Regions from separate parts of the Homo sapiens genome. Here all the other regions are linked to region 2. Evidence: fine-mapped expression QTL. A gene starts in region 2. Each other region holds a variant in brackets. All regions are shown on one strand. Distances are between the middles of the regions. Region 1 has its middle 16 kb from the start of CCR1. Region 2 holds the start of CCR5AS (CCR5 antisense RNA). Region 3 overlaps CCR5AS (CCR5 antisense RNA).

Region 1 (8,185 bases), 180 kb after region 2:
TATGTTGACTAGGAAGGGGCTTCATATAAAATGTAGATACCTTCACAACGAATACACTTTTTCAAGTACCTATGGAACATTCACCGAGATAAACCATATGCAGGGTTTTAGTTTTTTCATTAAAATTATGCCAAGTATGTTCTCAAGCCAAAGTGGAATCAACTAAAGTTTAATAACAGAAAGATAACAGGAAAATCTCTAAACACTTGAAAATGTAAAAACACTTCTAACTAATTTATGGGTCAAAGAGGAAGTCTCAAAGGAAATTTAAAAATATACAGAACTAAATGAAAACAAAATAATAATATATCAAGGTATGTGGGCTGTAGCTAAAGCAGTTCTGAGAGGAAAATATGCAGCGCTAAATTCTTCCATTAGAAAAGAACAGTCTCGCATCAATAATCCAAGTTCTTTCCTCAAGAAACCAGAAAATGCAGAGCAAAATTAACTCAAAACAAGTAGAAAGGAGACAAAAATAAAGAGAAAATATAAATAAAATTGAAAACAGAAAAACAGTAGATAAAAATCAAAGAAACTTCCATCACAAGGGATGCAAGAGAAAAAAAGGCAAGGAAACAAAAAGCCAGTTTTTCAAAAAAATCAAGAAAAGTGATAAACCTCTAGCAAGACATACAAGAGAAAAAGAGAAGACATAAATCACCAATATCAGAAATAAAACGGGATATTACTACAGCTTCTTCAGCCATTAAAAGGAATAATAATAGAATACTATGAACTACTTTATTATCATAAATTCAACAATTCAGAAAAACTAGTTTGTTGAATATTGACATAGATAAAATATCTATGACAGAGTGATTTAACAAAATGTTTCAGCTGGGCGTGGTGGCTCAGGTCTGTAATCCCAGCACTTTGAGAGGCTGAGGCAGGGGCTGGGATTACCTGAGGTCAGGAGTTTGAGAACAGCCTGGTCAACATGGCAAAACCCTGTCTCTACTAAAAATACGAAAAATAAAAAAATAGCCAGGCATGGTGGCATGCACCCATAGTCCCAGCTACTCAGGAGGCTGAGGCATGAGAATCGCTTGAACCTGGGCAGCAGAGGTTGCAGTGAGCCGAGATCATGCCACTGCACTCCAGCCTGGGCAAAAGAGCAAGACTCCATCTCAATTAAAAAAGAAAATATATATATATATATATTTCACCTATTCATGGTAAACACTCAGCAAACTAAAAATAGAAAGACACTTCCTCAACTTGATAAACAGCATTTACAAAGAGTCTAGAGAAAACATTATACTTGATGGAGAAAGAATGAATGTTTTCCTCTAAGATCAAGAACAAAGCAAGGACGTCTACTCTCACCACTCCTATTCAACTGGAAGTTTAAGCCAGTGCAGTAAGACAAGAAAAATAAATAAAAGGCATACAGATTGGAAAGGAGGAAATAAAACTGTCCCTATTATTTAGGAAAGACATAGCGGTCTACATAGAAAATCCCAAGGTCAGTAAGATTGCAGGAACAAAACCAGGAAACAAAAGTCAATCACATTTATATGTACTAAGGAACATGTGGAAGCCAAAATTAACAATTTTTGTGCCATTTTCAGTTGCTCCAAAAAGCTTTTAGATGATACTTAGGTATAACTCTAGCTAAGTATGTACATGACTTGCATGCTGAAAACTACAAAATGCTGATAAAATAAATCAAAGAAGACCTAAATAAATATAGAGAGATATACCATGTTCATAGATTAGAAGACTCAACAGTAAAGATGTCAATTTTCCCCAAATTAATCCAAGGTTTAGGGAAATTTATATTATAGAAATTCCAGTGAAATTTTTATAGCCATTTGTAAGCTTATTATTCTTAAGTTTATATGGAAAGTCACAGGACCTAGAATAGCTAAAATAATTTTGAAAAACAATAATAAAGTGAGAGGAATCACTTACCTGATTTCATGACGTATTATATAGCTACAGTAATCCAGATAGAGTGATATTGGCAGAGAGATAGACATACTGATCAAAGAACAAATAGAGAACTCAGAACTAGACTCACAAATATGCTTAACTGTTTTTTGACAAAGGTGTAAAGCCATTAAATGGAGGGATAGTCTTTTCAAAAAATGGTGCTTGAGGAATTGTACATTCGTAGATAAACCAAAAAACAAAATGACCCTCAGCCTAAACCTCACACCTTATACAAGAAGTAACTCAAAAATGCAAACAACATATCTAACAAAATATTTGTTTAGAATATAAAGCATTCTCAAAACTCAAAAGCAAAAAAGCAAAAATTCCAATTAGAAAATGGTCAAAGATATGCACAGACATATCACTGAAGAGGATATACAGATAACCACTAAGCACATACAGAGATGTTCAATATCATTAGTCTTTAGGGAAATGCAAATTAAAACTACCATGAGATGTTACTACATACCTATCAGAATGGCTGAAATAAAGAATAGTAAAACAAACACTGGCAAGGATGCAGAGAAAATGAATCACTCATACTTTGCAGCTGGGAACATAAAATAATACAGCCATTATGAAAAAGAGCATGGCACTTTCTTACAAAACTAAATTCGTGCTTACAATACAACCCAGCAATTGTAGCTGGGTAATCCCGAGTAGCTGGGATTACAGGCAGGTGCCACCATGCCATGGACAATTTACCTAAAAAATGTTCAAAGATTTAAAGATTGAGATGGTAAGATGCCTAATGAGTTAATGCCTAAATCTTAAGTTTTTGCATGTGCACATACCCATGTAACCACCAGTCAAGACATTACTAGAACCCCAGAATGTTCCCTAGCACTTCTTCCCAGTCAGTACCCACCTCCATAGAGGTCATGTCTATTTTATTTCTATCACTGCTGATCAGTTTTGACCATTATTGAATTCATTATAAATGAGGTTATGTAGCATGCAGTAGCAATAGTTTGGTCTTTTATATTACTATATATAGTATTCTCTCATATGACTAATTTATCTGTTTTACTACTGATAAGAATTTTGGACTATCAGTTTGAGACTATTATGAATAAAGTTACTAACAACATTCTTGAACACATCTTTTGGGTTTATGTGCACTTCTCTTGGGTATTTACCTGGAAGTAGAATTGCTGGGTCACAGGGAAAGCACATGTTTAGCTTTACATACTGCTAAACAATTTTTCAAGTGGTTGTACCAATTTATACTTGCACCAGCATGGTGTGAGAGTTCTCATTGCCTCATAACCTTTTTAATACTTGGTATTGTCTATTGTCAGGGTTTGTTTTTTGTTGTTGATGGCTTTTTTTTTTTTTTTTTTTTTGACAGAGTCTTGCTCTGTTGCCCAGGCTGGAGTGCAGTGGCATGATCTCGGCTCACTGCAACCTCCGTCTCCCAGGCTCAAGCAATTCTGCTGCCTCAGTCTCCCAAGTAGCTGGGATTACAGGTGTGTGCCACGATGCCTGGCTAATTTTTGTATTTTTAGTAGAGACAGGGTTTCACCATGTTGGCCAGGATATCTCAAACTCCTCACCTCAGGTAATCTGCCCGCCTCAGCCTCCCAAAGTGCTGGGATTACAGGTGTGAGCCACCGTGCCCAGCTAATTTTTGTATTTTTATTAGAGATGGGGTTTCACCATGTTGGTGTTAGCCAGGCTGGTCCTGAACTCCTGGCCTCAGGTAATCTGCCTGCCTCAGCCTCCCAAAGTGCTGGGATTACAGGTGTGAGCCACCGTGCCTGGCCCAGGGTTTGGTTTTTTGTTGATGTTGTTTTGCGTTTTTTTCATTTTAGCCATTCTGGTGGTTATGTGCTGCTGTCTCATTGGTTCGTCTCATTAAAACCAGTGGTTTTAATTTGCATTTCTCAAATGATTAGTGATGCAGAGCACATTTTCACATACATGTTAGTTATTTGGATATCCTCATCTATGAAGTTTCTAATCAAGTCTTTTGCCTATTTAAAAAACAAGAGGCCATTGGTCCTTTTCTTATTAACTGGCAGGAGTATTTAATCGATTTTGTATATGCATCCCTTTATTTGAAAGAGCTCTCCCTGAGCTGTTTCTGGCTGTGGGCACTCATGCTGCTTTCTACCCAGCTCCTGGCACACCCTGATCACACCCGATGGAGACTCTATTTACCGACACCTCTGGGCTTATGTTTCTGAACCTGCTCAAGTCATCCACTGTCCTCTAGTACCTCTATCCATGTCCCATACCTGCACCAGCACCCTGTCCGTGGCCAAGTTTCAGGCAAGCCATGGGATCTAAAATGTCTCTCTCCCTTCTTTGTCAGGAGCCAAAAGAATTCTTGCTTCCTGAAACTGAGGCAGGCTGAAAGGGAAAACAGATTGATACAAGTGACACGTGATAATGTCACTCTGAATAAAAGAGGTCAAACTGTACTTATCAATAGTCACACATACATACATGCACACACACACCTGCATGCATGTACACAACATGCATGCACACACACAAGCATCAACTTTAATCAGCAAGTCCTTACACTGACCACCTCTTATATATATGCATCTCAGTGCTGGGTACTGTGGAAAACATATGAAAAAGGATTGGGCATGGGCCCAGCAGCTGAGAAGCTTACAATTTAGCTGGAGAGAAAAGATGTAATACAGATAACATGATATAAAATGCTGTGTATTAGACTGTATGTAAGCCCAGACTCAAAAGAGATTTTATTTGTTTGTTTGTTTGTTTTCAAGACAGAGTCTTGCTCTGTCACCCAGGCTGGAGTGCAGTGGCACGATCTCGGCTCACTGCAACCTCCACATCCTGGGCTCAAGCAGTTCTCCTCCCTCTGCTGGGATTACAGATGTCCACCACCACACCCAGCTAATTTTTGTATTTTTAGTAGAGACAGGGTTTCACCACATTGGCCAGGCTGGTCTCGAACTCCTGACCTCATGATCCA[C/A]CCACCTCAGCCTCCCAAAGTGTTAGGATTACAGGCGTGAGCCAACACACCTGGCCTCAAAAGAGTTTTAAAACTTGGCATGCAAGACTGTAAGTGTTAACTTGGGCTGGACCTGGACAGGGAGTTTTTAGAGCACTTCCTTAATATACTTTCTCCTTCCCCTTTTTAGCATGAAGGGTTTCTTGACAATTTTCTTGCACATAGGAGACATTCAACAGATGTTTACCAGTTTGACTGAGGCATAGGATGAGGAAATAAATAGCCACGTAGCTCCCATCGGCTGAACATTTACCAAGTGCCAGACACATATTGAATCATATTTAATTATTGCAACAATCCTGAGAAAGAAATATTACTCTCACTATTTTAAACGTGGGGAAGCTGAGGTTCTGACAAGCGGTAAATAAAAATGCCCAAGGTGGCATGGCTGGCATCTGAGGGCTGTGCCAGGTCTGGTGTGCTGGAGGACTTGCTGCCTGTGGCAAGGTGCTGCCATTGTCTGTTGCTTGAACAAGGTGAGGAGCGCAGCATGCCTGGCCATGCATGATGTCTGAAGTTAGAGCCCAGGACCTAGGGCACTAGATCTGTGGGGTGGGGCCCTGAAAGATTAAGGGACTCTGGAGGTTTTTCTCCTGAGTTCTCTACTAGCCTGGCAGTACCCTTCAAGAAGAATCCTAGGGCTTCCTGATAGGTAGCTTCAGAGGCAAGGCAGCAGCAAGAGGGCGACAAATTAAATAAGAGAAAGTAACGCAACCAGGCTGCCTGTCAGCCCCTGTAACTTCTCCAGATTATCATACTGGACCCATCACTTGCCCAGTCTAGCTAGAAGTTCATCTATCCCCATGAAACCCCCATCTCCCCACCTCCACCATGGCCATCCAGGAATGCCCTAGGTGTGCCATACTCTGTGGCTGCTGTGTTGATATGGATTGGTGGTGTGGCATGATACATGGTCCTGCTTCCTCTGTCTCACTGCTCTGAAACAGGAATTCAGACATGGGTCCTTTGATGTGGAGAGTGTCACGCCTTATTGTCCTAGAGAGTGGGACAGCCTGGGAGGCCTGCCTATCTGACCTTCAGGGCTCCTGCCCAGTCCTCAGGGGGAATCTTCAGTGCCAGTTTGTGTGGAGGAAGCCTGTGGGAAATTGTGTGGACAGCAGTGGCAAGAGAGGGGCTGGGGAGGGACTAGGGGGCACACGGGAAGAGGAAAGGCAGGCAGAGCTAAGTGAGGGGTGGCGGCCAGTCAGGGGCCCAGACACACTCCTTCATGGACCCCCTTCTTTGTCTTCAGTGGTCTTGGGTAGGTCTGCTTTGCAAGGGGCAAAAGAACACAGGATGATCCTTTGGAAGAAGTGAATGTGCATTTCAACAACCGGAAACCTGCCAGGGGTTCTTGGAGGAAAGCAAGCTCAAAAATGAAGGCTTAAGCAAAACAAAATAGCCCACCCCGCAGAATAACCCACAGAGGGAAAAGGAAGACAGGAATAAGACTAAAAGTCTAGAAAAGGGAAGTGCAAATTGGGTTCAAGATGCCTCAACTGCAGGCAGAGCCGTGTGGTTTGAACTGTTTGTGTGACTTGAAACATAGCCCAGCCAAGGTCAGGACCTCTCTTTGTGAAGGATTGGGCTGCGGGGGGCATGTGAGGGGTGCATCTTGCATGTGCAGGAATACCCCTACAACTAGGGAATCAGGCCCCAGCTGCTAGTGGGAAGAGCAGATATTCAAGTAAAAGCTATTTCTGCTGAAACCAAAGATTTATATAAACTCAGATACAGTATTTGTTGCTGTTGTCAGATCCATTTGTCCTTGAAGACTTAAGATGAAAGAAATGCAAACATCTTCCCTGTACATTCATGGCCTATAGGTACTCTGCAATGGTGTGCTGGTAAATGTTAACAACCAGCTTTCTGGAGGAAGAATCAAAACAGGCACAACATGCCTGATATAATAGCATCAATTTCCAGTTTCCTTGGTGTAAATACTCTCCGTGGCCAAGTTCAAGTTGTGAACTTAATATCACTAAGGCGAAGGTGGGTCTAACAGAGTTTAGGTAACCATAATAACAGAGTTTGTTGAGTTTACATTATTTGCTAAATTCTTCATGTGCATCATTTTATTTTATTATTTCAATAGTTTTTGGGGAACACGTGGTGTTTGGTTACATGGATAAGTTCCTTAGGTGTGATTTCTGAGATTTTGGTACCCCCATCACCTAAGCAGTGTACACTGCACCCAGCGTGTAGTCTTTAATCCCTTGTCTCTTTCCCACCCTTCCGTCTAAGTCTCCAGAGTCCATTATGTCATTCTGATGCCTTTATATCCTCACAGCATAGCTTCCACTTATAGGTGAGACCATAGGATGTTTGGTTTTCCACTCCTGAGTTACTTCACTTGGAATAATGGTCTCCAACTCCATCCAGGTTGCTGGGAATGACATTATTTTGTTCCTTTTTGTGGCTGAGTAGAATTCCATGGTATATGTATATCACATTTTCTTTATCCACTCGTTAGTTGACGGACATTTACTTTGGTTCCATATTTTTGCAATTGTGAATTGCGCTGCTGTAAAGATGCATGTGCAGGTGCCTTTTTCATTGTAACGACTTCTTTTCCTCTGGGTAGATACCCAGTAGTGGGATTGCTGAATCAAATGGTAGTTCTACTTTTGGTTCTTTAAGGAATCTCCATACTGTTTTCTATAGTGGTTGTACTAGTTTACATGCCCAGCAGCAGTGTAAAAATATTCTCTTTTCACCACATCCCTGCCAACATCTATTATTATTATCTATTATTTTTTGATTTTTTAATTATGGCCATTCTTGCAGGAGTAAGATGATATTGCATTGTGGTTTTGATTTGCATTTCCCTGATAATTAGTGATGTTGGGCATTTTTTCATATGTTTGTTGTCCACTTGTGTATCTTCTTTTCAGAATTGTCTACTCATGTCCTTAGCCCGCTTTTTGATGGGATTATTTGTTCTTTTCTTGCTGATTTAAGTTCCTTGTAAATTCTGGATATTCACCATTTTGTCAGATGCACAGTTTGCAAAGATTTTCTCCCACTCTGTGGGTTGTCTGTTTACTCTGCTGATTATTACTTTTGCTATGCAGAAGCTTTTTAGTTTAATTCAGTCCCATCTATTTATCTTTGTTTTTGTTGCATTTGCTTTTGGGTTCTTGGACATGAACTCTTTGCTTAGGCCAATGTCTAGGAGAGTTCTTCTGATGTTATCTTCTAGACTTTTCATGGTTTCAGGTCTTAGATTTAAGTCTTTTATCCATCTTGAGATGA
Region 2 (8,185 bases):
TGGTGCCCTGCAGTGCGGCAGCAGTGGGCGGCCTGGGTAGGTTTTTAGCAAGCATCAGTGCCAAGCCTCCAGCTCTCTTTAGTGCAAGCAAGATGCTGGGCCAGCAGGAGGAGGCAGCCAGCCCAGGCCCTATGTCTGCAGGACTCAGCCGGGAGTGGTGATTGTCCCCTGGCAGCAAGGCCCTGGTAGCTTTGAGGCCTCAAAGGGCCAGAAGCAAGATTATAAAGAGACCAGTGAGTGTGGAGTCCAATTCTGAACACCAGGAACAGGAAAATGTTTTTAGGATCAAGGATGCATCATCCTTACGGATCTGGGGGGTCTCCGGGGAGGTAGCTCACATGTTGAGGTGACCTTCTGCTGATGTGGCAGGTGGGAGCCTGTGTTCTACTAACTCAGCCACAGAAAGGAAGTGGGACAACCTTTTGTAGTTATGTGCTGGTGAGGCCTGAGGTATGTGTTATACTTAAAAGGACAAAGCATTCATTTTGTTAGACATTTCTAAACATAATTTCTCATTTGCTTTTGTTAAGTCTCCTAAGATTCCATAGTCTTGATAAAGTACGAGAAAATACCAGAAACCTTGGGTTAGGGGAAGCTGGGGGCCTAGGGGTGTGGCAAGTAAGCAAGAGAATTTAGAGAACTTCGACAGAACAAGTTACCTTACCTCTTTTTCCCACAGCTTCCAGCTAGCTAGTTCTTCTCATCACCGGCGAGGCAATGAGCCTGAAAAGTTACTCCCATATAAATGGGCTGTCTATAATTTGGAATGTAGTTAAATTGGTTTTAAAATCAACTTACAAATTATTTTAAAATACATTAAATAGATGTTTTAAAATACATTTATTTCATGTCGTTTGTCCCCAGGGTTTGGAGTTTGATGTTCTGGACCAAGCGTAGGCTCTGAGCAAATGCTACCAGGGCTGGAGAATCAGTTCTGCCACTTCCTAGTTATGTGATCTTAGACAAATTTCCGCGCCTTAGTTTTCTTCTCAGAGAAATGAGACTAGTCCTATCCACACTATGGACAAGTGGTAGGAGGCGAAGGAGCTCACGTTTGTAAAGAGCCTTGCACGGTGCCTGAGACAAATTCAGTGCTTAGCAAATGTTAGCTCACCTCTCCCTTTTCTTCCTGTATCCGATTTTGTATACAAATGTGTAGAAAATTTACATGAAATAATGCAGAAAGATGAAAATCCATGTTTATTCTTCTTGCATTTGGTGGATGCTAGTTTACACTTCGGTGGAATGGTCAGGTTCTTCCCTCGATGTGCCTTGTGCAGACTGCCCCCTGGGTTGAAGTGGGGTGTTACTACGCAGATGGAAACAGCGGCAGAGGTATTTGCTAAATGTCCCATCAAGAAACGCATACAGGAGAGGGTTGATGCAGCAGTGGGTGGTGGCGATGAGTTTAGTGATGTGAACACTTTTGTCCAGATTGTAGCTGCTCTTGCAGTCACTCAGGGAGAAGTGTTCTTTGAAAGTGGACAGGAAAAATGCAATATTGTAGGGCGCCCACATCAGAAGGAAGACTACCATTATGGCAAAAACAAGCTTGAAAAGGCTATACCTCTGCTCCCTGAACCTTAGTGTTTTTCTCATTTGCACATAGAGAAATGTAAAAATAAATAGGGGGAGGACAAGAACCGAAATGTTCATTTTTAAAGTCAGAAAATGCTTCCAGAATGTCTCATCAGCTGGCAGGAAGGGAGTTCTGCTAAATGCACACTTGTATTTCTGGTCTTCCATCTGAGGTTTATAAACCACGAATTCAGGCAAAGTGGCCAGAATGGCTGTTACCCATGCCAGGACACTTGTAATGATGCCACAGGGCACCCTCCTCCTGGCTGAGAAAAAGTTTCCCTTGTGCAAAAACACTAGGTACCTTTGCACAGTCAGAAGGCAATTGAAAAATGTCTCACTGTACAGGCCCACGAAGTACAGTCCAATGAGAATTTTACACATGGGATCGCCCCCAGCATGAGCCCAGAAGGGCAGGGTAAGCAAGAAACACAAGTTAGAAACTGCCAAGTTTAGAAGATAGATATTTTCCACGCGTTTGAGTCCTTTATATTTTACCAGGATAAGCACAACCAGGAGATTGTCCAGGACACCGATCACAAACACAGCAGAGCAGAGTGATGGCACCAGCTGGGCTGAGAGTGCCTGGGCGTCATACTTGTCACATTGCTCTGCCTCATCGCTCTCCAGTTCACCTTCTATGAGGACATCATATTCATCCTCTGGTGCCAGCGTGTAATTGGCCATCTTCAGACTGCCCTGTGGAGAAATGGGAGATGATTTTCCCCTCCGACAGCTGCCTTATCCTGGAGGAAACAACAAACTGGACCTGGATTCATACAGCCCCACTTTCCCTTTCTGGAGCTACATTTTAGCCAGAGTAATTCCCTATTTCAGAAGACTGAAATAAACATTTCTTTAACGTGTGCCCACTTCCCCAGAGCAGCACCATTCCCAATCTAGTTGTTAAGCATGTAAGTGCTTAGCAGTGTGCCAGGTGCCACGGGAAATAAAGCTGGCATGACACCGCCTTGGTAGAACTTACCTTCTTTTAGCAGAAACAGGACTTGCCTACATGAACACAATATGTAAGAAAATATATAATTAAAGAGAACCAAGTACGATGGCTTACTTTTAAGAAACGGGTGTAGATCATAATTTCTGCATTTTAAAAAGTTTGCTCACCCCCCGAAGCAGCTTCCTGTGACAGCTGAGACGTTTTTCTCTCGAAGGGTATAAATAAATGTTTGCAAAAGTGAAACCATGCTCAGCATCAACATGGCCATAAGGGGTTAAATACATAGATGACACACAGATGACTTACCACTGGGCTGAGCTCCTGCAGGGGAAGGGCGCAGCCTCCAGACCCAGCATCCGGGAGCTGTGGGAATGGCCCCGGACAGTGGATGCCCTCCTTTTGATCAGACTGCTCCTGACCCTGAGGGGCACGAGAAACCACTGTTGATTCCCCTGGTGGCTCTACCCGCCCCACTCACCGAGCTCAGGGACCAACTGAAATAAAGTACTCAAAAGCTCCCCCAGGCCTCCAGAGGATCTCTGAAGCGTCTGAAAGCAACCGGGAAGTTGTTTCCTCCTCCCTCTGGCCCTGTACCCCGCCTTTGATTTCCCTGTGACCTTTGACAGCCGTCTTCTGGCCTTCTGAGATAAGGGAACTGTGTCACTGCCGCTCTGAGTGGTAGCAAGGAAGTGATGTCAAGGTGCTGAGAACTGCCAAGACGCTCTGGCTTGTGGCATGTGACACTCTGAGTAGGTAACAGGTACCAGCTACTGTCAGCAGGGAGGAAGGTATGTGGTGACCACGAGTCCAGACCTGAGGGTCCTGACCCTCTAATGCGGCCTCTCACCAGTGTTCGCAGAAACCCACCCGCTGATTCAATACGGGGACCAGGAACCTGCCATGACAGTCACGGTGTGTTTGGGTTTTTATTGTCATTTTTGAGGGGCACTGTGTGCTTTGGTTAAGACTGAGGCCTCAAAAGAGAATTTTAGGAAAATGGAAGCCACAGGGTGATGTCAGCTGGGAAAAGGCCAGGGGCAGAGGTGGGGTCTCAGCGGCAGTGAGCATAGGGCTGCCCTGGGTGTCAACACTGAGGAAAGCAAAGGGGTTTGCAAGCAGCCAGAAGTGATTGGTGCTGTGACTCATGGGGGAGCTGACCCCACTCGGAAAAGGAGAACCCAGAGGAGGAAAATCCCGTGGTGATGACACAGAGGCGACATCAAGTTGGGTGGGAGAGAATGTGAGGAGGACAAGTTTAACCCCAAACTGAGGCTGGGGGCTAGGGTAGGTTTGAGTCCAGAGAGAAGGAAATTGAGAGAACAGCCCAGATTTGGAATGGTGGGAGGAGGCTGTGGGGAGGGGAGGCTGTGGGAAGAGAGTGGGACGGGGAGGGCACGGTCTGGAAGAAGGACGAACCGAGAAGAGGAACTTGAAAATAATGAAAAAATCTAGATGAGCTTCTCTTGGGTCAACGACTCAGCAGCTGTGACTAACCTAATTTGGGGATCAGACCTATTTGCTTAGAATTTATATATTGATTAAATGACATCCTTTTCCCACCAAAGATGTGTCTGAGGTAGGATTGAATACAAAATTTGTACCTGTCAAAATAGAAATAGAAAATTAAGAAACTAGCCTGGCACTGAGGCGCATTCCTACAGCCCCAGCTACTCAGAAGTATGAGGTGGGAGGGTCGCTTGAGCCCAGGAGTTTGAGGCCAGCCTGGGCAACATAGTGAGATCCCGGATCTATAAACAATATAAAAATTAGCCAGATGCAGTGGCAAGTGCCTGTAATCCCAGACATTCCAGAGGCCAAGGTGGGATGTTCACGTGAGCCCAGGAGTTGGAGGCTGCGGTGAGCCATGATCATGCCACTCTGCACTCTGGCCTGGGTGGCAGAGCGAGACACTGTCTCTGGAAAAAAAAAAGAAGAAGGAGGAGGAGGGGCGGGGAGAGGAAGGGAGGAGAGAGAACTATTAAGAGAAAAATAAACACAGAAAGAGCCCAGACAAATATGTGATTGAGCATTAAATTTAACTCCACGTGTGCCGACAGACAAGGCAGAAAGAGAAACACAATGATGTTTGATGGCAGAGGAGTTGGTGCTGGTGGGAACCTAAGCTGTAAGTGCCCTCTCCTCTCTTGTGTGGGTCTCCTGTGAGTGAGTGAGTGGGGGTCATGGTGCCCTGGGACACTCTTCCCACCCCCTACAGCCTGGGATCAGCAGTGGCCCCTCCTCCTGGGTCTCTCCACCTCCTGCAGCTGGGCAGGACACTCAGGATCTTGAATGAGTAGGTGCGGGCAGCTTTACTCTCGATACTCATGGATCAGTTCCAGGAAAAGGAAGGAAAGTCAAGTCAGACTTTGAAACTTGCAAAACGCTGGGAGTACGCACACTCTTCCTCATTAGTAGAGGACAAAAACAGCAGTCAGGCACCTCATGTACCGCATGTCACAGAGTCATGTGAGATGTGAAATTTCCCAAGTAAAAACACAGAATCATGTGAGGTGTGAAATTTCCCAAAGAAAAATGTTTTGTAAATTCAGGATCACCCTGGCTTACTAATATTAGCATGACCTTCACTTTCAGTATTATTTTATTTTTGCCTGATTCCCAGCATTCTGCCTATCCACACTCAGGCCATGAGGTCCTTGAAACTTCTACATAGGAAGGAAGGAAGAGTTTAGAAGGCTGCAGTTGAGGCGAAAGGAAAGTTCTCTTTATTATTCTCATATCTGAAGCCATAATAGGGCCTCCTTGTTTGTGAAACGACATCACATTCTGCAGCCTTGGCAAGTGGTCCACAAAGCTTACCTCTGAAGGTCTGAGTTCCTCTTTATCACTATAATTTGACCCCAGTTTTAGTCGAAGGAACTATCACTGTATACTCTCATTCCCCACTACGTGTAGATCACTCATTTACTTAATTCAATTATTCAGCAAGTATTTCTAGAGTGCCTAGCCTGTGCCTAGCTCTGTTCCAGGTGCTGGGGATGCACCAATGGACAAAATAGGCAAAAATCCTGACCTTCACAGAGCTCAAGTAAATTGTAGATTAGTAGGAGAGAAGTGCTATGGAGAAGGCGAAGCAGGGAAGGACAGCAAGAGAGGCCAAGGTGGCTCAGGGATCACATTTTAAATAGTGTAGTCAGAAAAAGCCTTGCTGAGAGCTGGCTGTGGTGGCTCATGCCTGTAATCCCAGCACTTTGGGAGGCTGAGGTGGGTGGATCACTTGAGGTCAGGAGTTTGAGAACAGCCTGGCCGACATGGCAAAACTTCATCTCTACTAAAAATACAAAAATTAGCCAGGAGGGGTGGCGATGGGTGCCCGTAATCCCAGCTACTCGGGAGGCTGAAGCAGGAGAATCACTCGAACCCAGGAGGTGGAGGTTGCCGTGAGCCAAGATTGTGCCACTGCACTCCGGCCTGGGTGACAGAGTGAGACTCCATCTTAAAAAAAAAAAAAAAAAAAAAAAAAGAGAGAGAGAGAGAGAGAGAGAGAGAGAGAAAGCCTTGCTGAGAAGATGGGCACTAAAGCCACAAATGGTTGGGTCCAATAGTTCATGATCATTGTCTCATTCTTTCTTGTCACTAAGTTCTTATATCAGGGAGGTTGAAAACACACACTGGGTGATAACCTTAGCAATAATTTTACCGAAGACGCAGACATATTCTTCTTAATATATTGACCCTCAATAAAAAAGGCAAAGGATGTGAGGCTCCAGTTACTGATTTATCGCCTTTCAGCTCTTCATTCACTCTTCTGTGTTCTGCTTTGTGAGTCTAGAGCTGGACCCCATAAACATTTCTCCTTTGCCAGTTGCTGTAGAAGGCATAAGAGGGTCGCAGTAAGAGGCAGAGTTTTTTCTTTCTGGTTCTGGGATTTGTTTTTATTTTGTTTTTGTTCTTTTGGCTGATTTGCCAGTGCTGGGTGGAGACCCTGCAGTGCCCACTCCTCAGTGAATTTTGCCGACACCACGACAGTGGCTTCCTGCTGACTTTTGCTGGCACCCTACTGGGTAGCTTCCTAGTAAATTTTGCTGGCACTCCAAGAGCGTCTTCCTCGCCAGAGGCATGCCCACATTCTTGGGAATCTCACTGGTACCCCTTCGGGCAGTTTCCTGCTCAGCAGCCCCAACCTGCCACAACTCTGCAAACTTCTTGGGCATCCATTGGGTTGCAGCCACACCCCCTCCAACAAGGGTGGATCAGCTGGGGAGGGAGGGCATTTTTTGAGTTCGCCCCTTCCTTGGCTGCTGTGCCTTAGCTTAGAGGTTATGGCTGCTCTCTACATCTGCCATTCCTGCATTCTTCAGCATTCTCCTTACCCCCTTTAGTAGTTCATACCCTTTTATAAGTTAATAACTCATTATATTTAATGTTCATGTGTGGTTTCTGTCTTGACTGTATGCTGATTGATACACACAACATTAAATTTAGTTCAGGGAAGGGATGGGGAAATGCTAGGATGATGCCTTTTTTAGAGATCTAACTTGATCTTGAGAAATAGGTATTAGATCAAAGAGCTAAAAACAGAAATCCCATTACTGGGTATACACCCAGAGGAATATAAATCATTCTACCATGAAGACACACGCATGTGAATGTTCATTGCAGCACTATTCACAGTAGCAAAGACATGGAATAAACCTAAATGCCCATCAATGACAGATTAGATAAAGAAAGTGTGGTACATATACACCATGGAATACTATGCAGCCATGAAAAGAACGAGATCATGTTTTTTTGTGGAAACACGAATGGAGCTGGAGGCTATTACCCTTAGCAAACTAACACAGGAACAGAAAACCAAATACCTTGTATTCTCACTTATAAGTGGGAGCTAAATGATGAGAACACATGAACTCAAAGAAGGGAACAACAGACACCGGGGTCTACTTGAGACTGGAGGGCGGGAGGAGGGAGAGGAGCAGAAAAGATACCTATTGAGTACTGGGCTTGATAGCTGAGTGATGAAATAATTTGTACAACAAACCCTCATGACAAAAGGTTACCTACGTAACAAGCTTTCACATGTACCCCAGAACCTAAAATAAAAGTTCAAAAAATTATTGTTTAAATGCATAATAACAAATTTGGAAAATTTCAAAAAAAGAGAAATAGGTATTAGAATGTTTAGACTGATGATAATTTAATCTGTCCCTTACTATGGCTTCTTCAAATATAATCTTTCTTAGATTATCAATTAGTCAATCCATCTATCTAATTTTTATTAGCAAATAAAATGTTACAGAAAATTTGTATAGAGAAAAACTATGATAGTGATAATCTCACATAATAGCCATTATAAGTTTTAAATACCACTGCTTCTTAATGGGAAATGTAGAAAAACTACTTTTAGAAAACAATCAATTTTCTTCTGAATTAGTTGTTTGATATTGAGTAGTAGATCAAAGAGGTAAATAATGGCATATAATTTTAAGGCTTCGGAGACCATCTTATCCTGCCCCCAGATTTTCTTTCCCATAATTGGCTGATCCCTAAAATTCCACCTCAGTACCCAATAATTAGTAGCTGTGATACCTGGGAGGGCAGATAATATTTCTAAAATACAGCTGTGTTGATAATCCACCCTGGAAATACAGATTTTATATGTACTTACTGGGAGTGAAATAGTGTTGACTA
Region 3 (8,176 bases), 41 kb after region 2:
AGACACCCCCACCCCCGCCCCATATAGGGACATATGTCTGTGCTACAACAGAGCTCAGTAACATAATCATAACAAGGACAGCGAATCATCGAGAAAATGTTCTAGTTCATCCCATATGTGCAATTCAAAAGGCATTGATTAAGAACTGCAGTCATGCTGCTGGGTTTAACCTCCAGCTTCATTACTGCTACTTGGCTCTGACCAAATTATTGAAGCTCTGTGCCTTAGTTTTCTTAACTGTAGAGTGGAGGTTTTAAAAAAACCCAAATACAAACTTACTCAATATGCCTGTGGTGGAGAGGGAATGATAACAAGTGTAGAGCCTTTTGGGCACCCACCCTCGGGGGACTGTTTAAGCAGGGAAATATAAAGTGTGCTTTTGAAAGAGTTCAAAAATAGGTAACAAATAAATTAATATAAAATTTTATAGAAAATAGATAGCATAAATACAACTTTGGTTTTTCGAAAGATAGATAGCCTTGTATTCACTGGTAATCCACTTGTGCAGAACCCCCGGAGGCTGCCGGACCAACACTGTATTTCTGTTTGTGGCAATTGCTGGTTCTTACTTTCACCATGCAGAGCTGAGGCTTTGCCATGTTCTGTTTGTCTGTCATTAGGGTATTGGAGGATGTGAAGACATACTCACCCCCAGAGGGCAATGTGGGCTAGCGGAGCAGGCTCGGAGTCACACACGCTGTGCTGCTGACTTGCTGTGTGACCTCGGCAAGATACTTCCACTGCCCAAGCTTCCATTTCCTCATCTGTTAAATGACGTGCTAGACCTGGGGCAGCTTCCACCCTAAATACTACATGATTCTATGGCCAAGTTAGTTTGAAAAATATAGGCTAGATGGGAAACAAGGTGAGGATTCACAGGCTGAAACAAGGAAGCACAGCTTTGCAGTGTGCGTTACTCCACTTTTGTGTTTCTGGTCCAGAGGTGTGTTCTAGTAACCACTCAGGACAGGGGGGTTCAGCCCAAGGATTCACAAGAAAGTGGGGACCCATGGGAAATTCTTCAGCATTTAAATGAAATGTTGTTCTGGATACAATAATGACAACAAGCTAGCAGCTTATCATGCTGTGACTTAGTTGCTTGGTGTCTGCTACTCTTTCTACTTTGTCCCTCTCAGTTTGCATGGCTCTTGTTCTCTTTTTATTATTAAGTACATTCGGACACCCCATAGGAAATGAACTTTTGATCACTTTGTCACTCTAGACTCCATGCCCATATTGGAGGGTGTTTCGTGCCATCCCTCCTTTTTGGGGCCTTTTTGTCTTTAAACAGCTGCCCCATGTCTAGTCACTGCACCTATGTTCCAAGCATTGCTTTGCTGTCTCCTTGCTCACACCATTTCTGGACCATATTTTCAGAGCATCGTCAACAGGATGGGGAGAATGTTAATTATTCACTTTGGGTGCAAGGGCCAACTACATGAGCACAGTGAGCAGAAACCCTGCCATACAGCAGCTGTTGTGAAAATCCCTGGGGCCTGAGTTGACTCCTGGTCAATATCAGTCAACAGTGAGACGGGCTGTAAAAAGAGCAAATGAATCTTTTATTTTTAAAAACAAATGTCTAGGCCAAGTGCGGTGGCTCATGCCTATAATCCCAGCACTTTGGGAAGCCAAGGCGAGTGGATAACTTGAGGTCAGGAGTTTGAGACCAACCTGGCCAGCATGGTGAAACCCCATCTCTACTAAAAATACACAAAATTAGCTGGATGTGGTGGTGCGCCCCTATAGTCCCAGCTACTCAGGAGGCTGAAGTGGGAGAATCTCTTGAACCCAGGAGATGGAGGTTGCAGTGAACCAAGATTGGGCCATTGCACTCCAACCTGGGTGACAGCAAGCTGTGTCTCAAAACCAAACCAAACAAACAAAATGTCTAATTATAAAACCAACACATGCTCATTGTATAAAATTGGGAAAAACAGAAAAAAGGAAAAACTTAGGTACATTCTCACAGTATCAAAACAATGTCTTTTAAAACATGATGTTTCAATCCTGACTTTTCCCATGCACTTTTCGATTAATTGTTCTCATGCATATACCATTCTGTAGGCGGCTTCTTTTTTTTTTTTTTTTAGCTAAAGATTATAGTGTAGACATTTTCCTATATTATTAAAAAATTCTTTATAAGTGTAGTTCTTTATTATTTTTATTGAGGAAGAACACACTTAGTGGTACAGCTTGGTGAGTTTTGATATGCACACATGCATGTAACTACCACTCCGGATCAAGATGATAAGGAACATCCCTATCACTTCAGAAGGTGCCTTTTGCTCCACCCAGAGGTAAGGGCCACTCTGTCTTCATAGAGATTAAATAAGCCTGTCTTTAACTTCTATAAATGGATTAAAGATACTGTCCTCTTTCCTGTCTGGCTTCATTCATTCAACAAAATAGCCTTAACTATATTTAACAGAGCTCCGTCATTGACAGTCGGGCTCTTCCCGTTGTTCAGTAGACAGTCGGGCTCTTCTCGGTTGTTCAGTCATGTGAGCAGTGTCACACTGATTGTCACCATCAGTGCTCTGACATCCCTGTCAAGAAGTACACTCTTCCTGTCCCTAGAGCCACCTTTAGCAGGAGAGCCAGGGAGTCCCCCTGATCCTCACAGAAATAGGAAGAATCTACCCCCATCCAGTGCCACGCTTTGTTACCCATGTGCCTCAACAATGACACTTGAGTCTTATGACACCCACCAGGTGACAGCCTCTTTACCTTCTGCCTCAGACACCTATCATCGTGGGTGGGTTGGGAACTCACCATGCTGTTGTCTCCATCCCTGCCTCTGTCCTGTAGACCTTTCCCAGGGTAACCCACTTCCCAGCCCATGAACCACATCCCCCATAGGGATTTGTGCAATTCATCAAACCAAGTGGACATGTGCAGGCTGTCTACCTCATGGATTCATTAGATAGGCTCAAACCTGGTGGGAGCCCCTTAGCTCAGCTGAGAAGTCTTCTCTATGCATTTAGGGGATTTCTTTCAGATCGGTGTCTAGGCGTGAGGCTAGTGCCATGTAGGTACAGTAACAGATGTCTAAGCTAACAGTTCAACAATACAATAGACTCACTGTGATCTTAAGTGAGTCAGATCATACCTGGAGCTCTATACTCAGCTCTGCACATAACACGAGATTATGTAGGGCTTTTCTGGTTGTCCCAGAACTAGCAACTATGGCCTAAGGCTGAAGGCAAAGAAGTGTTATGCACTCACAGTTCCAAAGAAAACCACTGACACCTGGGCTCAGACACCTCTCCCAGGGCTTACTAGAAGATGACAGCACCAGCCCTGTATCCACACCCATCACATCAACTCCTCTCACTCCAGTCTGTATACGGAGGCAATTAGGATAATGAATGGATTGTAGAAGTGGGCAGGATTGGTGGGGAAGCGAGTGAGGGCATCTCTCCTCAAAGCCAAAGAAAGGGGCTCTGAAGAAACCATATGAGGAATGGGGACTTGCAAAAGGAGAGGCCAGCATGGGTGGGGCCCCCACTGGGCAGCAGACAAGCTGAGCAGGGGGAGTGGGGATTGGAGAGAGTTAATAGGGGTAGAGATAGGGTGTGTAAGTGAGGCTGCAAGGATCAAGAGTGCCCCTGGGTCAAGTGGCTACCACAGGAGGGAACTGGGCAGGAACTGTCACATTGGGTCCTACTTTCTGGGTGAGATGAGCCCAGCACCCAGAAAATGGTGGGTTGGAAGAAGTCAAATCAAAGAGAGATCTCACATATCTAGATCCATTTGGAGCCCCCACCATATCTAGGCCCTTGGATGTGACCACACAGTGTGCCTGCCACTCTGGGGCATCTTGACCAACACAGAGTGGACTGTGGCAGTGGCCAGTTAGCTAAAGAGGTTCAGGCACACCTTGGTGAGATTGTGAGTTCAGCTTCAGACCACCACAGTAAAGCAAATATCTCAAAAATAACCTTTTTGGTTTCCCAGTGCATATAAAAGTTGTGTTTATCCTATACTGTAGTCTATTAAGTATGCAATAGTATTATGTCAGAAAAACCAATGTGCATACCTTAATTAAAAATATTGTATTGCTAAAAATGCTAACCATCATCTGAGCCTTCAGCAAGTCATAGTGTTTTTGCTGAAGAGGATGGCGGTCTTGTTTTGATGTTGATGGCTGCTTACTGATCAGGGTGGTGGTTGCTAAAGCTGGGGGTGGCTGTGGCAATTTCTTAAAATAAGATGACAATGCAATTTGCCACCTTGGTCGACTCTTCCCTTCACAAAAGATTTCTCCATACCATGTGATGCTATTTGATAGCATTTTACCCACTTCTTTCAAAATTGGAGTCAATCCTCTCAAACCCTGCCACTGCTTTATTAACTAAATTTATGT[A/G]ATATTCTAAATCGATTGTTGTCATTTTAACCGTGTTCACAGCATCTTCACCAGGAGGAGATTCCATCTCAAGAGACCACTTTCACTGCTCATATGTAAGAAGCAACTCTTCATCTGTTCAAGTTTGATCATGAGAGTGCGGCAATTCAGTCACAACTTCAGGCTCCACTTCTAGTTCTAGTTCTCTTGCTGTTTCCACCACATCTACAGCGACTTCCTCCACTGAAGACGTGAACCCCTGAAAGTCATCTATGGGGGTTGGAATCAATGTCTTTCACACTCCTGTTAATGTTGGTATTTTGACCTCCTCCCATGAATTACAAATGTTCCTAATGGCATCTAGAATAATGACTACTTTCCAGAAGCTTTTCAATTTGCTTTGCTCAGATCCATCAATGGAATCACTATCAATGGTAGCTATATAAACTATATAAGGCTATATATATATATATAGCTATTTCTTAATAGCCTTATGAAATATATTTCTTAATAAGACTTGAAAGTCTTGGTCCATGGACTGCAGAATGGATGTTTGTGTTAGCAGGGATGAAAACAACATGAATATTCTCGTACATCTCCAACACAGCTCTTGATCGACATGGTGCAGAGCAGTAATATTTTGAAAGGAATCTTTTTTTCTGAGCAATAGTTCTCAATAGTGGGCTTGAAATATTCAGTAAACCATGCTGTAAACAGATGTGTTGTCATCCAGGCTTTATTGTTCCATTTATGGAGCACAGATAGAGTAGATTTCGCATAATTCTTAATGACACCAGGATTTACAAAATAGTAAATGAACATTTACTTCAACTTAAAGTCATCAGCTGCATTCACCTCTAAAAAGAGAGTCAGCCTGTCCTGTGGAGCTTTGCAGCTTGCCTTGACATCTCCTCTCTAGCTGTGAAAGTCCTGGATGGCATCTTCTTCCAACATAAGACTGTTTTGTCTACACTGAAAATCTGTTGTTTCGTGTAGACACTTTCATCAATTATCTTATCTAGATTTTCTGGATAACTTGCCACAGCTTCTCCCTTTGCACTTGCTGCTTCATCTTGCATTTTTATGTTATGGAGATGTTGTCTTTCATTAAACCTCACAAACCAACCTCCGCTAGCTTCAAACTTTTCTTCTGCAGCTTCCTCACCTCTCTCCGCCTTCATAGCATTGAAGAGAGTTAGAGTCTTGCTCTGGATTAGGCTTTGACTTAAGGAAATGTTGTGGCTGGTTGGATCTTTTCTCCAGACCACTCAAACTTTCTCCATATTAGCAATATGGCTGCTTTGTTTTCTCTTCATTTGCATGTTCCCTGGAGTAGAGCTTAAATATCCTTCAAGAACTTTTCCTGTGAAGTCGCAATTTGGCTAACTGGTGCAGAGGTGAGCTTTTGGCCTTGACTTTCAATATGTCCTCCTTACTAAGCTTAATCATTTCTAGATTTTGATTTAAAGTGAGAGACGTGGGACTTTTCCCTTCACTTGAACACTTAGAGGCCATTGTAGGGTTATTAATTGGCTTAATTTCAATATTATTGTGTCTTGGGCTGGGCACAGTGGCTCATGCCTGTAATCCCAGCCCTTTGGGAAGCTGAGGCAGGTGGATTGTTTGAGTCTAGGAGTTTAAGGCCAGCCTGGGCAACATGGCAAAACCCTGTCTCTCCTAAAAATACAAAAAAAAAATTAGCCGGGTGTGATGGTGCACACCTGTAGTCCCAGCTTGGGAGGCTGAAGTGGGAGAATCACCTGAGCCTGGGGAGGCAGAGGTTGCAGTGAGCTGAAATCACATCATTGCACTCCAGCCTGGGCAATCAGAGTGCGACTCTGCCTCAAAAAAAAAATATATATATATATATATATAATTGTTATAAATATATATATATATAATTGTTATATATACATTATTGTGTCTCAGGAACAGGCAGTCCATGGAGCAGTCAGAACACACACAACATTTATTGATTGTTTGCCATCTTACATGGGTGCACTTCATGGTGCCCCAAAACAACTACAATAGTGACATCAAAGATCACTGATCACAGATTACCATAACAGATATAGAAATAATGACAAAGTTTGAAATATTGGGAGAATTACCAAAATGTGACACAGAGATGTAAAACAAGCACATGCTGTTGGAAAAACAGCACCAATAGACTTGCTCGAGGCAGGGTTGCCACAAACCTTCAATTTGTAAACAACAACAACAACAACAAAAACAATATCTGTAAAGCACAATAAGACAAGGTATGTCTATATTTGCCCTTTTTCCTAACACTCCTCTCCCACTTCTCAATGCTAGTCCATGCCTAGAAGAGGGAGGTACAAGAATTCCCCACAAGGTAGACCACTAGGCACGTGCTGTGGAGGATGGAGCAGGAGGGGACATAGGGACAGAATGCACCCCCTCCTCTAGGCAGGGCCCTCCAGAATCCAGTCAACCCTAAGGCCCCATTGAAACAATGACTGGAGAGAAATGAAATAATTTCATATTGTGAGCTGATTACATTAGGATGTGTTATAAGGGATAGTATGAAATAAGATGTTAGTCCATGCCCTTACCCTTGCTTGCTGAGCTGCTGGGCCTGCAGAGCCTTTCAGGTGCTGGGAGGGAGAGGTTTTTCCCAGCATAACCCTCGGCTCACATCTCACTGTGGCTCCAGGCTGGGGCTGCCAAGGCCGGACCTTGCATTACAGGACTCTGTTTACACACACACACACACACACACACACACACACACACACACACACACAGAGTGCCGAAGTGGCAATGTCTGAAGAAATTTCCAGCCTCATTCCTCCCATGCCTGGAACCAATCTCTTCTCCTCAATTCATGCACTGTCTTCCAGAGGTCAGCTCACCAGCCCATACTCCTTCTGTCACAGTGTGGCCCCTCTGGGTGGCCCTTGGTGGTTTTTCCTGTGGGCTAATCTCACCTGAAGCCTTTTCAATTTGTCAGGGAAGTTTTCATAATGAGCAAAAACAAAAGAGGAAGGAAGGATGGGCTCTTGAAGGTTTACTTTCTGGAGGCTTCGGGGCCTCTTTGCAAAATGCTCCAACCTCCCCAGCTGCTGGGGATATCACAGATCAAGGGAGGTGGCATGGGGTGGGCTATGCCAAGACCCTTCCTTACCAAAAAGTCTTCAGACACTCATCCCTCAGAATGATGATGAGGGATCATCATCTTCCACCTGCTTAACTCGAACAGCCTACTCAAATGTCCCCAGAATAAACGAGACTTGAGGATTCCACTTTAGAAAGAGAGATGGTTGGCATTTTTTTTTTTTTTGAGATGGAGTCTGGCTCTGTTGCCCAGGCTGGAGTGCAGTGGCCCGATCTCGGCTCACTGCAAGCTCCGCCTCCTGGATTCATGCCATTCTCCTGCCTCAGCCTCCCGGATGGCTGGCAATTTTTAAATGGCAGTTTCTTTGGCAGCAATAAAATCCTGCTGTGGCTGTTATTCCTATGATGCAAGACTGTCATTGCATTAGTCACTCTGTCCTCCAGGCTCTCAGCACTTTTCACAGATGCCTCTGTTCCTGCTCTGCACAGCGCACTGTGACTGTGCACAGGACCTTCTCTACCCCTCCCACTCCACAGCTGGCCCTGGACTTGGAGGTGTAAAGGACACTGGCATTAACATCTGTCTTTCTGTTTCCAACCCAGTCTGGCATAGGTAGACCCTCCGGGATGCTTGTCATATTGAATTCCATGATTGAAAATAAATGGATAGTTTTCCAGATTCTATATATGAAGTCACTATATACCACATGTCTTAATCGGTTTTTGTGCTTCTTAACAAACAACCCCTAA

Evidence for each region. PIP is the estimated chance that this variant, and not a neighbour inherited with it, causes the effect.
Region 1: its variant is fine-mapped to the expression of CCR5AS in whole blood (INTERVAL, PIP above 0.99).
Region 3: its variant is fine-mapped to the expression of CCR5AS in whole blood (INTERVAL, PIP above 0.99).

What each region holds. Positions count from the first base shown.
Region 1 is chr3:46,219,834-46,228,018 of GRCh38, reverse strand. It overlaps a transcript of CCR3 not described here. Among named protein-coding and RNA genes, the nearest start is that of CCR1, 16 kb to the right of the region's middle. RefSeq lists an enhancer at 6,182-6,351. The variant C/A (reference allele first, on the strand shown) is at 4,892.
Region 2 is chr3:46,402,160-46,410,344 of GRCh38, reverse strand. It overlaps CCR5AS (CCR5 antisense RNA), which reads left to right and starts at 3,279. Exons shown (of 4, transcript NR_125406.2): 1 at 3,279-3,448. CCRL2 (C-C motif chemokine receptor like 2) reads right to left here and starts at 3,086. Exons shown (of 2, transcript NM_003965.5): 1 at 2,843-3,086; 2 at 822-2,277. The coding sequence starts at 2,265. The coding sequence ends at 1,231.
Region 3 is chr3:46,361,281-46,369,456 of GRCh38, reverse strand. It overlaps CCR5AS (CCR5 antisense RNA), which reads left to right. Exons shown (of 4, transcript NR_125406.2): 4 at 4,412-5,473. Among named protein-coding and RNA genes, the nearest start is that of CCR5, 5.6 kb to the left of the region's middle. The variant A/G (reference allele first, on the strand shown) is at 4,370.